Linked DNA regions of Homo sapiens: regions 2 and 3 are each linked to region 1. Evidence: fine-mapped expression QTL. A gene starts in region 1. Each other region holds a variant in brackets. All regions are shown on one strand. Distances are from middle to middle.

Region 1 (4,097 bases):
TCCCAAAGTGCTGGGATTACAGGGGTGAGCCACCATGCCTGACCCCTATTCGTTGTTAATACCTTTACAAACTCACCACATTCTGTCACTTGTAATCATTATTTGTGTCCCTGTTCATTTCTCATTAGGCCATAAATTACATGAGGACAGCAACCATATAGTTTAAGTTTCTATCTCCCAGAAAAGTTATCACAGTGCTTTAAATACAGCAAGCATAAAAATGTTGGCTAAATTCAACATTTGTTTGAGTGAGATGGAACAAGAAAACAGGGGCAGGGATAGGGGGAGTAACCCCATCAACTTCAATGCTGTACATTTTTACATCTATCCAATTTCCCCCATGCATGACCTGAAATACTTGGTGTAGAGTACCTGTTTTGCACAAAGGAGGCCACCTTACTGGAAAGAAGGCAGAGCATTGAGGAGGAACCAAGAGCAAGGAGAGGTGGGCACTTTAGGAACTGAGAACTAAAAATCAGCTCTCCATTAGTTGCTGTAAACGTTTAATCACTCTCAACATAAAATTTTCTGTGTGGTTAATAGAGTCAGACAGACCTGTTTGAATCCCAAATCTGACGCTCATTATTTGACCTTAGCCAAACTGGTTAACCAATCCAAGTCTCAGTTTCTTCATCTGCCAAAAGGGAACGATAAATGTATACTTGATACAGATGTGAGGGTGAAATGAGCTAACGTATGTGAAGCCCTCAGCACAGTGTCTGGCATAATAAAATAGGAGCTGTTCCTCTCCGTTGGAATAGTAGGGCAGGACTTGTGCAACACTGTGATGGGAAAACAAAGATAAAGGCAGAACAGAGTGCAACACATTAGGAACATTTCAGGGGAGGTTACCTAGAAGGGCCACTACATTCTTCTCAGGACTAAATCCCTCCTGACTGTTGTCTTCACCCCAATCCTGGAAAACTCACCGTCACCCCATATTTGAGTGCTAGTCCAGCCAGGGTGTCTCCGGGCTCCAACTGATGCTCCAGGCGTCTTTCCCTCACTGGGGAGCAGGCCGATTGCACCAGGCTTCCATATGAACGAGCCCGGCTCCCTTGAAGCAGTCCTGACCCCCCTGGCGGGGGCTGTCTAGACGGGGAAGCCATCTCTTCACCCTGCCAACAGCTAAGGTTGCAACTAGGGGAGGTACGACCGAGACTGCGACTGACAGGCCTGAAGTCTGGGAATGAATATTCAGGGGATTCCTTTCCCCCTCTCTCTTCCCCTGTGTCCCCGCCTCCCCAGCACTACGCCATCTGCCCCCTCCCGGTTTCTCCTCCCTCCAAGCTACTTATCCACAAATCTGTCCCTTGAGTATTCAGTCCCTCCCTAATTCTCCCCTAAGCACCCCTCCGACTTTGGACTCCCCCACAACTCCTCGCTACATTGACCTCTGACCTTTGAACTCTAGAAATAATCCTCAACACTCTTTCCTCAGTTTGCCCCCAAGTAGCCTGGCCTCAGGGCGCTCCAACATCCCAGCTCTCCCCGGTCCCGGGGTTTGTTTGCTAGAGTCAGGAACAAATCAGGCCCACCCCAGGTGAACTGTCGCCGCAGACGAAGAGCGTGAGGATTGCAAGAATTTGTAGTACACCTTCCACTCAGAGATCCTCAAAGGTCCGCTCCGCATAAGATAGGTCACACCCTCAAATTTCGGCTCCACATCTAGGTTGTTGTCCCTCCAAACGCCTCAGATCCGCCAAGATGCAAGGGCCTGGATCCAGTTGAGCGGCAAGGTCTTTGAGAAAAGACTTCATTTCCCAAAAGGCTCCGCGTCTGCGGAGTCGCAGGGCACCATAGGAAATGCAGTTCCCTCCGAGCACCAGAGAGTGGATTTCCGGATCGCGCAATGCATGCGTGGAAGTGCGTCCCCGGAAGTACGGAGGCCGACAGGAAGAGAAGGAAAAAAGAGAAGGCGCTGTCCCGCTCTTGCTACGGTGGCCTGGAGGAGTGGCGAAACCGGAACAGAGAATTTATCACTTCTGGGACTCACAGTCGTGATGTCTTTCAAGAGGGAAGGAGACGATTGGAGTCAACTCAATGTGCTCAAAGTAAGCGTGAGCGGAGAGGATCTGGAGCCGCTTCAGTCGCTCCCTGAAGGTTGGGAAGGAGCTTTGTTTCATTGCTCTGGCAACAACTCGGGGGTGCAGGAGAGAACCAGGCGACTTAGAGCTGTGTAGTGACTCCTTTTTCGGTCTATGATCGCTGTTCTCCCCAGGGTCCTTATTCCATTTCACTCCTCATTTCTATAATTTCACTTCCACCCCTCTCTCCTATCCCGCTGATCCCGTCCGGATTTCTTCCCCTACTCCCTGCAGAAAAGAAGAGTCGGGGACCTCCTAGCCAGTTACATTCCAGAGGATGAGGCGCTGATGCTTCGGGATGGACGGTAAGAGCAAGGAGTGGCTCAAGCCTGAGGGTTCTGCGGTTAGAGGCTCAATAGACTTTTTTTTTTTTTTCCTTTGAGACGGAGGTCTCGCGGTGCTGCCCAGGCTGCCCTCGAACTCTAGGGCTCAAGTGATCCTGCCTCCTCAGCGTCGCGATTAGCTGGGTTTACAAGCGCATGCCACCACGCCTGGCTTCAACAAACTTTTGTTATTAATTAGGACAGCAGGAGTACCTAGGATTCTTTGGCGGCCAGTGAGGACTGGAAGAAGTGGAGATTGGGTCACCAGGGAGTTGGGTTTTGCAAAGACTGCTAGGACAGGGTGGGACCTATGGCAGGGACGGGCCCAACCCTCTTCCCCTGGACCACTTATCCTCTTCTCTACCCCTGCTCAGCTTTGCTTGTGCCATCTGCCCCCATCGACCGGTACTGGACACCCTGGCCATGCTGACTGCCCACCGTGCAGGCAAGAAACATCTGTCCAGTAAGTTAGGGGGAAGACGGGATGGGGAATAAACCCTCGAAATCTCTGCACACCACTCTTGGTGCTATGCTTTTAATTCTGTTTCCCTTTCTCCTCAGGCTTGCAGCTTTTCTATGGCAAGAAGCAGCCGGGAAAGGAAAGAAAGCAGAATCCAAAACATCAGAATGAATTGAGAAGGGAAGAAACCAAAGCTGAGGTAATCAGAGAGTGGAGAGTGTGTTCTAGGCAAGACCCTGCTGCACACACCAGGCTGGAAGGGCGGAGGGCTGAAGGCTCTGACTCTGTCTCCCATCTCCTTACCAGGCTCCTCTGCTAACTCAGACACGACTTATCACCCAGAGTGCTCTGCACAGAGCTCCCCACTATAACAGTTGCTGCCGCCGGAAGTACAGGTATGGGACGGGAAAGCCAGAGGTAGGAAGGCTCAGAAGGAGACAGATGGCTCTAAAAGAGTTTTCCAGTGTGTATTCTGAGGAATACTAGTGTTCTGGAGATGTTACTTAGTGTTTCAAGAAAAGGAGAATTTTGGCTGGGCGCGGTGACTCACGCCTGTAATCCCAGCACTTTTGGAGGCTGAGGTGGGTGGATCACTTGAGGTCAGGAGTTCAAGACCAGCCTGGCCAACATGGTGAAATCCTGTCTCTACCAAAAATGTAAAAAATTAGCTGGGTGTGTGGTGTGTGCCTGTAATCCCAGCTACTCAAGAGGCTGAGGCAGGAGAATTGCTTGAATCCGGGAGACAGAGGTTGCAGTGAGCCACGGTCACACCACTTCACTCCAGCCTGGGTGACAGAGTGAGACTCCATCTCAAAAAAAAAAGAAAAGAAAGAAAAAGAAAAGGAGAATTTTGTGATTTTTAAATAAAGTTTGGGAAATGGCACTTTGTAATTCTACTTGAAGAATAACAGTTTTAAAAACTATACAAAGTCTTAAGATTAAAAAAAACTTGTAAAATTTTAAGCTAGCCTTTCCCAAATTCATGATTCTGAAATCCTTTGTATGCAGAACTTATTAATATCTTGAGAAATATAGTTTAAGAAGCACTGTTTTAAGAGGTTGGGAGTCATAGGAGAGTTGGCCCTTTCCCTTACTGCTTTTACAGACTATTCTTCTCTACCTAGACCAGAAGCCCCTGGTCCCTCTGTCTCCCTTTCCCCTATGCCACCCTCAGAGGTCAAACTCCAAAGTGGGAAGATCAGTAGGGAACCTGAACCTGCGGCTGGC
Region 2 (4,097 bases), 89 kb before region 1:
ACGCCTGTAATTCCAGCTACTCGGGAGGGTGAGGCAGGAGAATTGCTTGAGCATTAGAGGCAGAGGTTGTGGCGAGCCGAGATCGTGCCACCGCACTCCAGTCTGGGCGACAGAGTGAGACAGTCTCAAAAAACAAAACAAGGGCCAGGCGCAGTGGCTCATGCCTGTAATCCCAGCTCTTTGGGAGGCTGAGGCGGGCAGAGGTCAGGAGATCAAGACCATCCTGGCTAACACGGTGAAACTCCATCTGTACTAAAAATACAAAAAATTGGCCGGGCACGGTGGCTCATGCCTGTAATCCCAGCACTTTGGGAGGCCCAGGAGGGCAGATCACGAGGTCAGGAGATCGAGACCATCCTGGCTAACATGGTGAAACCCCATCTCTACTAAAAATACAAAAAATTAGCCGGGCATGGTGGCGGGCGCCTGTAGTCCCAGCTACTCGGGAGGCCGAGGCAGGAGAATGGCGTGAACCCAAGAGGCGGAGCTTGCAGTGAGCCGAGATTGTGCCACTGCACTCTAGCCTGGGCGACAGAGCGAGACTTTGTCTCAAAAAAAAAAAAAAAAAAAAAAAAAAATTTAGCCAGGTGGGAGACTGGGACAGGAGAATCGCTACAACCTGGGAGGCGGAAGTTGCAGCGAGCTGAGACTGCACCACTGGACTCCAGCCTAGGCAACAGAGCGAGACTTCATCTCAAAAAAACCCCCCCCAAAAAAACCCAAAAAAACACAAAACAAAACAAAAAAAGAATGCCTTAATGGGAATGCAGCCCAGTAGGTCTCAGCCTTATTTCACCCAACTCCTATGCAAGATGGAGTTGCTCTGGTTCAAACACCTCTGACATTTCTCCCATCCCTTTTATTAGAGAACCCTTAATCCTAGGGGTTACAAAGAAATAAAGATCCATCTTCTGTAACTTTTTCAGGGTGAATAGGGGCGATGATATTCCTGCCTGACTCTTAGGGTCTCTTGTATTCAGGGTTCAGAGAGGAGCTCAGTCAGAAAGCATCAGTATGGTGAGAGCTATTCATAACTCCAACAAAAGGTGATATCTGGAAGATTAAAAGGTGTTCAGTTTAAGAAAACATTCAGTAAGCTTATCCTGCATTCCTACACAAAGAGTACAACAGCAATATACTCCTCAACAGTAAAGCAAAATAAGCAAAACTATCCCAAGTAAATTAAATAAGAAGGTTTTCCATGAACTGGGCAACTGTTGGAACCAAGCTGATTTGGGGTTACTAGCTGATTCCAGTATGTGCCCAGAATTAGAATATTGATCCAGATTTTTACATTACCCATTCCTTTTGTTTCTTGTGAGCAGCAGCCAGAGATCACTGGTTGGTTCACAGGAATAAGCAGAGTTAATCTAAGTTGCAGAAAAAAACTTAAAAACAACTGATGAGACTAGAATTTTTATTTTTTTTATTTTTTGAGACAGAGTCTTATTCAGTCACCTAGGCTGGAGTGCAGTGGCACAATCTTGGTTCACTGCAAGCTCTGCCTCCTGGGTTCAAGCAATTCTCCTGCATCAGCCTCCGGAGTAGCTGGGATTACAGGCATATGCCACCACGTCCGGCTAATTTTTGTATTTTTAGTAGAAACGGGCTTTCACCATGTTGGCCAGGCTGGTCTCGAACACCTGACCTCAGGTGATCCACCCGCCTCAGCCTCCCAAAGTGCTGGGATTACAGGTGTGAGCCACTGTGCCTTGCCAGTCTCCCATTTTTACTAAAGGCAAATCATGGTAAAATAGATTGGCTTTATTAAACTTGGTCTGATTTTTTTTTTTTTTTTTGAGATGGAGTCTCACTCTGTCGCCCAGGCTGGAGTGCAGTGGCGCAATCTCGGCTCACTGCAAGCTCCACCTCCTGGGTTCATGCCATTCTCCTGCCTCAGCCTCCCGAGTAGCTGGGACTACAGGTGCCTGCCACCACACCCGGCTAATTTTTTGTATTTTTAGTAGAGACGGGGTTTCACTGTGTTAGCCAGGATGGTCTCAATCTCCTGACCTCGTGATCC[G/A]CCCTCCTGGGCCTCCCAAAGTGCTGGGATTACACTTGGTCTGATTATTTGTATAAAGTGCAGCAAGAATAATGATTTTTCACATAGGCTTTTTAAATTGGCTTTGAAAGAACTTTGTTCCGTAAAAGGAATCTCACATAAGACTTACAAAGCCAATTAAAGCCCGTTGGGAAAACTGGCCTCATACCTTGTCTAAAGTCCCTGTACAGGGTTCCTGATCTGTGGTAAGTAAAGAGTGTCACTTTCTGACTTTCTGACAGGCCCAGGAGCCCCACATTATCCTGGGACCTCAGGAGGGGAGGAATTTATCCAACTCATAGGTTTTTTTTTTTTTTTTTTTGAGATGGAGTCTCACTCTCTCACCAGGCTGGAGTGCAGTGGCGCAATCTCGGCTCACTGCAGCCTCTACCTCCCGGATTCAAGTGATTCTTCTGCCTCAGCCTCCTGAGTAGCTGGGACTACAGGCATGCAACACCACGCCCAGCTAATTTTTGTATTTTTAGTAGACACAGGGTTTCACCATGTTGGCCAGAATGGTCTTGTTCTCTTGACCTTGTGATCCGCCGCGCCCGGCCACTCATAGGTATTTGAGGGTATAAACCCATGGCTGGGCTCAGCTTTAAAAAAAAAAGAGAGGCCAGGCGCAGTGGCTCACGCCTGTAATCCCAGCACTTTGGGAAACCGAGGCAGGTGGATCACAAGGTCAGGAGTTCAAGACCAGCCTGACCAACATGGTGAAACCCTGTCTCTACTAAAAATACAAAAATTAGCCGGGCATGGTGGCACGTGCCACCTAATCCTAGCTATTCAGAAGGCTGAGACAGGAGAATCGCTTGAACCCAGGAGGCTGAGGGTGCAGTGAGCCAAGATCACACCATTGCACTCCAGCCTGGGCAACAGAGCAAGACTCAGTCTCAAAAAATAATAATTTTCTTTAGAATAATAAAAATAAAGGCCGGGCACGGTGGCTCACGCCTGTAATCCCAGCACTTTGGGAGGCTGAGGCAGGTGGATCCCCTGAAGTCAGGAGTTCAAGCCTCGCCTGACCAACATGGTGAAATCCTGTCTCTACTAAAAATACAAAATTATCCAGTTGTGGTGGCACGAGCCTGTAGTCCGAGCTACTCAGGAGGCTGAGACAGGAGAATTGCTTGAACCTGAGAGGTGGAGGCTGCAGTGAGCCGAGATCACACCACTGCACTCCAGCCTGGGTGAGACAGAGTGAGACTTCAACTCGAAAAAAAAAAAAAAAGAGTAAGAATAAAAATTCATTTTACACTGGGCGCGGTGGCTCACGCCTGTAATCCCAGCACTTTGGGAGGCCAAGGCGGGCGGATCACGAGTTCAGGAGATCGAGCCCATCCTGGCTAACACGGTGAAACCGTGCTTCTACTAAAAATCCAAAAAATTAGCCGGGCATGGTGGCGGGTGCCTGTAGTCCCAGCCACTCAGGAGGCTGAGGCAGGAGAATGGCATGAATCCGGGAGACGGAGCTTGCAGTGAGCCGAGATCGCGCCACTGCACTCTAGCCTGGGCCACAGAGCAAGACTCCGTCTCAAAAAAAAAATAGAAAAAAAAATTCATTTTACTTTTTCTTTTTTTGTTTTTGTTTGTTTGTTTGTTTGAGACAGTCTCGCTCTGTTACCCAGGCTGGAGGGCAGTGGCACAATCTTGGCTCACTGCAACCTCTGCCTCCCAGGTTCAAGTGATTCTCCTGCCTCAGCCTCCTGAGTAGCTGGGAGTACAGGCGTGCACCACCACACCTGGCTAATTTTTGTATTTTTAGTACAGGCGGGGTAGTAAAATTTTGTATTTTAGTAGGGGCGGGATTTCACCATGTTGGCCAGGCTGGTCTCCAACTCCTGCCCTCAAGTGACCCGCCTGCCTCTGCCTCCCAAAGTGCTGGGATTACAGTCGTGAGCCACTGTGCCTGGCTACATTTTACTTTTTCTTAAGATGGATGCTTCAGGTTAACTCAAAAGAGTAACTGAGGATAGGAGGAGAAAATAGCCTTGAAGAACGCATTTCTATATCTTTCTTATATTAGGAGGTAAATATAGCACCCTATTTACAT
Region 3 (4,097 bases), 41 kb before region 1:
GTGGATCACGAGGTCAGGAGATTGAGACCATCCTGGCTAACACAGTGAAACCCTGGCCCTACTAAAAATACAAAAAATTAGCCGGGCGTGGTGGTGGGTGCCTGTAGTCCCAGCTACTCGGGAGGCTGAGGCAGGAGAATGACGTGAACCCAGGAGGCAGAGCTTGCAGTGAGCTGAGATCGCCCCACTGCAACAGATCGCCTGGGCAACAGAATGAGACTCGGTCTCAAAAAATAAAATAAAATAAAATAAAATAAAATAAGTAAAGCTGCTGGCCAGACATGGTGGCTCACGCCTGTAATCCCAGCACTTTGGGAGGCCGAGATGGGAGGATCACTTGAGGCCAGGCCAGCGTGGTGAAACTCAGTCTCTACTAAAAATACAAAAATTAGCCGGGGGTGGTGGCGCATCATCATACTGGTGAGAAAAAAAAAAAAAAAAAAGAGGCCGGGCGCGGTGGCTCACAAAAAAAAAAAAAAGAAAGAAAAAGGAAAAAAAGAAATATCAGTTTGAGAAATGATTTTTTTTTCTTTTTTCTTTTCTTTTTTTTTTTTTAAACAGAGTCTCTCTCTGTCACCCAGGCTGGAGCGCAGTGGCATGATCTTGGCTCATTGCAACCTCTGTCTCCCGGGTTCAAGCGATTCTTCTGCCTCAGCCTCTGAAGTAGCTGGGATTACAGGCACGCGCTAATTTTTGTATTTTTAGTACAGACGGGATTTCACCATATTGGCCAGGCTGGTCTCGAACTCCTGACCTCGTGATCCACCCTCCTTGGCCTCCCAAAGTGCTGGGATTACAGGTGTGAGCCACCACGCCCAGCCTCTTTTTTTTTTTTTTTTTCTCACCAGTATGATGATGACCATTTTAAGAAAGCTTGTGTGGCTCTCTCCTATCATTACAGACCTCCAGAGCTGGAAAATTTGATGCATTTACTGAACTCTTCCTGAAAGTTTAATATGGAGTGGGAATCAGTTTTTGTCCTAATTTATTAGAGAAGGCTTCCTCTTCTCTACTCCTTGTGCAAACCCATCTCTGGATAGCTAGAAAAGGAACTTCAGAATGGACTATATGTGATGACCACCTGTATGCACTCTAGGCTCTTATCTGTCTCTATTTTATGTGGTGACTATATCTCAGAAGTACTACCCCTTCTGAGTAGTACTATTATTTCCTATGCCAATTTTTTTTAAGTCTCTGATGCTGCCCTTTTTAAATTTTTGTCTTATTTTTTAGCCTCTTTAGTATTAGGGGGTGAGGTGACATTCCTAGACTCTACAGTAGCAGTTTGGCATGTTAGTGACAGGAAATTGTGATTCCCTATCTCCCCCTCCTCCTACCTTTTCTGCTTTTGTGATTCCATTGTTCCTATCTCATTGAGGCTTTCCCAGGCATTCGAATTTAGTTAGTAGGTCATTTCTAATCTCTGGGCCTTGTCTTTTCTCTCTCCGTTCCCCTCCTTCCCTACCACATATTTTTTGTTTATTCTGAGGTGGTTTGTTTCTGAAAGTTAATCTAGGTCACCTTCTATATCCTGTGCTTTCTAGTTGGCTTTAGACATCTTGTTCTAGCAACAATGATGGTAGCAGCTCTCTCCCTGACCTTGCCCCATGTGCTGTCCTTCTGTCAAGGCCATTTGTGTGTGTACTGCGGCAGGTGTGTGTGTGGGGGGATGCGCCCAGACTGTTCTCACAATGTCCTCAGTTTTTCAGGTTGTCTGACAGCTTTATGTACAG[C/T]GTATTTTTAGAAAAACTTAAATATACTTCTTTATTTAGGGTTTTATTCTGATGAGCAAGTTTGTGTGTATATGTGTGTATGAGCATTTGTATGTATATATACTTATACAGATCTATATTATATATACAGTTTTTGTACTATCATTTAAAATAAAAATGTTTCTCAATAAAATGTCAAAGCCGACCATTTCAGGGTGTCATTGAATTTGTTTTCATCTCCTGGGCAAAATTTGTATCTATTCTCTTTTTTTTTTTTTTTTTTGAGACGGAGTCTCGCTCTGTCGCCCAGGCTGGAGTGCAGTGGCGGGATCTCGGCTCACTGCAAGCTCCGCCTCCCGGGTTCACGCCATTCTCCTGCGTCAGCCTCCCAAGTAGCTGGGACTACAGGCGCCCGCCACTACGTCCGGCTAATTTTTTTGTATTTTTAGTAGAGACGGGGTTTCACCGTTTTAGCCGGGATGGTCTCGATCTCCTGACCTCGTGATCCGCCCGCCTCGGCCTCCCAAAGTGCTGGGATTACAGGCGTGAGCCACCGAGCCCGGCCAAATTTGTATCTATTCTCTAATGACAGGTGAACCACAGAGCTCATTTTCCCTGTCCAACTGAGCTAACTGAAGGGGGAGGGGTATAGATCTACTAACCCATGCATGGCCATTGCCTTTTCCTTATCCACCGCTCTCAGCCTGGTATTCTTGACAGGCAGAGCAAGTTGAGGTAAGAAATGAAATGAGAATGAGGAGAGCTTTTGACCAGCTTGTTAAATGTACATTTTCCTTCTTTCTCTCATTCCCCACTCCCTTCCCTAAAAGCAAACAACCAAGGGAGGAGAAAAGTAGCTGAAGAAAATGATTATGTGCCTTGTGTGGGAGTAAAGTCAATACTGAGACGTATGGGGAAAAACATCAGACTCAGGAGTGCTTGGAAAGAGTAGATTTACTTTGCCAGCTTCTCAGCTATTCTTGGTTAATAGGGTGCTTGCTGCTATCTTAGTCCAAAATCAGCACACATTTATATTTAAAAATAGGAGGATCAGTCTGATAGTAGCACAATCCCCATTGATAGCCGGGGTGAACAGACCAATTTGACTAGCAAGATGGGTATCCTATCTAGTGTATAGAGTTCTGAAAAGCTGTTTTGTTGGCAAGAAGGATACCTTTCTTTACAAAATTAGCTTTGAGCCTGTCCAAAGCTAAGGACATATAAGCATCTGTGTTCAGCGACTGGAATCTCAAGTAAGTTCTCAAAGTCAATATTTAGGAAATTGGACACCTACCATGTACTAGGGTACATGTAGATAATTTCTTTTTGGTAAATACATATAGTCAGCAAATGCTGTGCACATATTCAAGTAATAGAAAGTAATTCTGGCAGGTACTTTATTAATATATATAGTCTTGGCTGTGCTGACAGAAAAAAAAGCAGGAACTTGTGGAGCCTTAAGAACCAAAGAACTAAAAATCTTGTTGAATTAAATCCTGGTGAGAGAAATCATCAAGATGGGAAAGTTGGAGGGAACTAGAGAGATAGGAACCTAGAGTTCTCTGATGGGTGATACTCTTTTTTTTTTTTTTTTTTTTTTGAGACAGAGTCTCACACTGTTGCCCAGGCTGGAGTGCGGTGGCATGATCTTGGCTCACTGCAGCCTCTGCCTCCCAGGTTCAAGTGATTCTCCTGCCTCAGCTTCCCTATTAGCTGGGATTACAGGCATGCACCACTACACTCAGCTAATTTTTGTATTTTTAGTAGAGACGGGGTTTCACCATGTTGGCCAGGCTGGTCTTGAACTCCTGACCTCAGGTGATCCACCCGCACTGGCCTCCCAAAGTGCTGGGCTTACAGGTGTGAGCCACCGTGCCCGGCTGGGTGATAGTCTTAAGTAATGGGAAAAATTATGAACTAGGGCAACTTTCCTAAGACTTCCTTCCTCTGTAAAAAAGAACCCTCTACTCCAAGGAGATCAATAGGTAAAAAATACAGGTGAAGGCTGAAGTGGGAGCAACCCAGTGATAACTACACCTGTGTAAGGCTTGTGCAAGACATTTGATAGGTAATTGAGTAAGTTAAGACTATGGGAGACTTCTGAACAAAAGTGTGGGGTTGCAGTCTGCTCCTATAACCAGTCCTAAAGTTTAAGGGTAGTGCTGTAAAGGAAAGGAAAGTTTGGGAAAGGGCCCAAAATTATAAATAACAATAGCCACCATGTTTTAAGCTTTTGCTACATGTCTGGCAATGTGCTAGGTACTCTGCATATACATATAAATACCCATCTTGTAAGGTGAGTATTATCCTCATCATATAGTTGTAAAAATAGGTTGACTTTGCAGAGTCACACACTTGTAAAAATTGTCCTTTTTTTTTTTTCTT

What was found. PIP is the estimated chance that this variant, and not a neighbour inherited with it, causes the effect.
Region 2: its variant is the best candidate, but not a certain one, in a credible set for the expression of LYSMD1 in whole blood (INTERVAL, PIP 0.55).
Region 3: its variant is the best candidate, but not a certain one, in a credible set for the expression of LYSMD1 in tibial artery (GTEx, PIP 0.68).

Annotation. Positions count from the first base shown.
Region 1 is chr1:151,164,150-151,168,246 of GRCh38, forward strand. LYSMD1 (LysM domain containing 1) reads right to left here and starts at 1,753. Exons shown (of 3, transcript NM_212551.5): 1 at 930-1,753. The coding sequence starts at 1,109. It overlaps TNFAIP8L2-SCNM1 (TNFAIP8L2-SCNM1 readthrough), which reads left to right. Exons shown (of 7, transcript NR_144937.2): 2 at 2,322-2,392; 3 at 2,785-2,873; 4 at 2,972-3,069; 5 at 3,177-3,265; 6 at 4,000-4,097. It overlaps SCNM1 (sodium channel modifier 1), which reads left to right and starts at 1,995. Exons shown (of 7, transcript NM_024041.4): 1 at 1,995-2,054; 2 at 2,322-2,392; 3 at 2,785-2,873; 4 at 2,972-3,069; 5 at 3,177-3,265; 6 at 3,995-4,097. The coding sequence starts at 2,004. RefSeq lists enhancers at 1,235-1,940, 1,694-1,973, 1,941-2,647, 1,994-2,043.
Region 2 is chr1:151,075,013-151,079,109 of GRCh38, forward strand. The region is part of intron 1 of GABPB2 (GA binding protein transcription factor subunit beta 2); the gene reads left to right. Among named protein-coding and RNA genes, the nearest start is that of GABPB2, 6.3 kb to the left of the region's middle. The variant G/A (reference allele first, on the strand shown) is at 2,024.
Region 3 is chr1:151,123,626-151,127,722 of GRCh38, forward strand. It overlaps GABPB2 (GA binding protein transcription factor subunit beta 2), which reads left to right. Exons shown (of 9, transcript NM_144618.3): 9 at 1-1,917. Among named protein-coding and RNA genes, the nearest start is that of SEMA6C, 21 kb to the right of the region's middle. The variant C/T (reference allele first, on the strand shown) is at 1,734.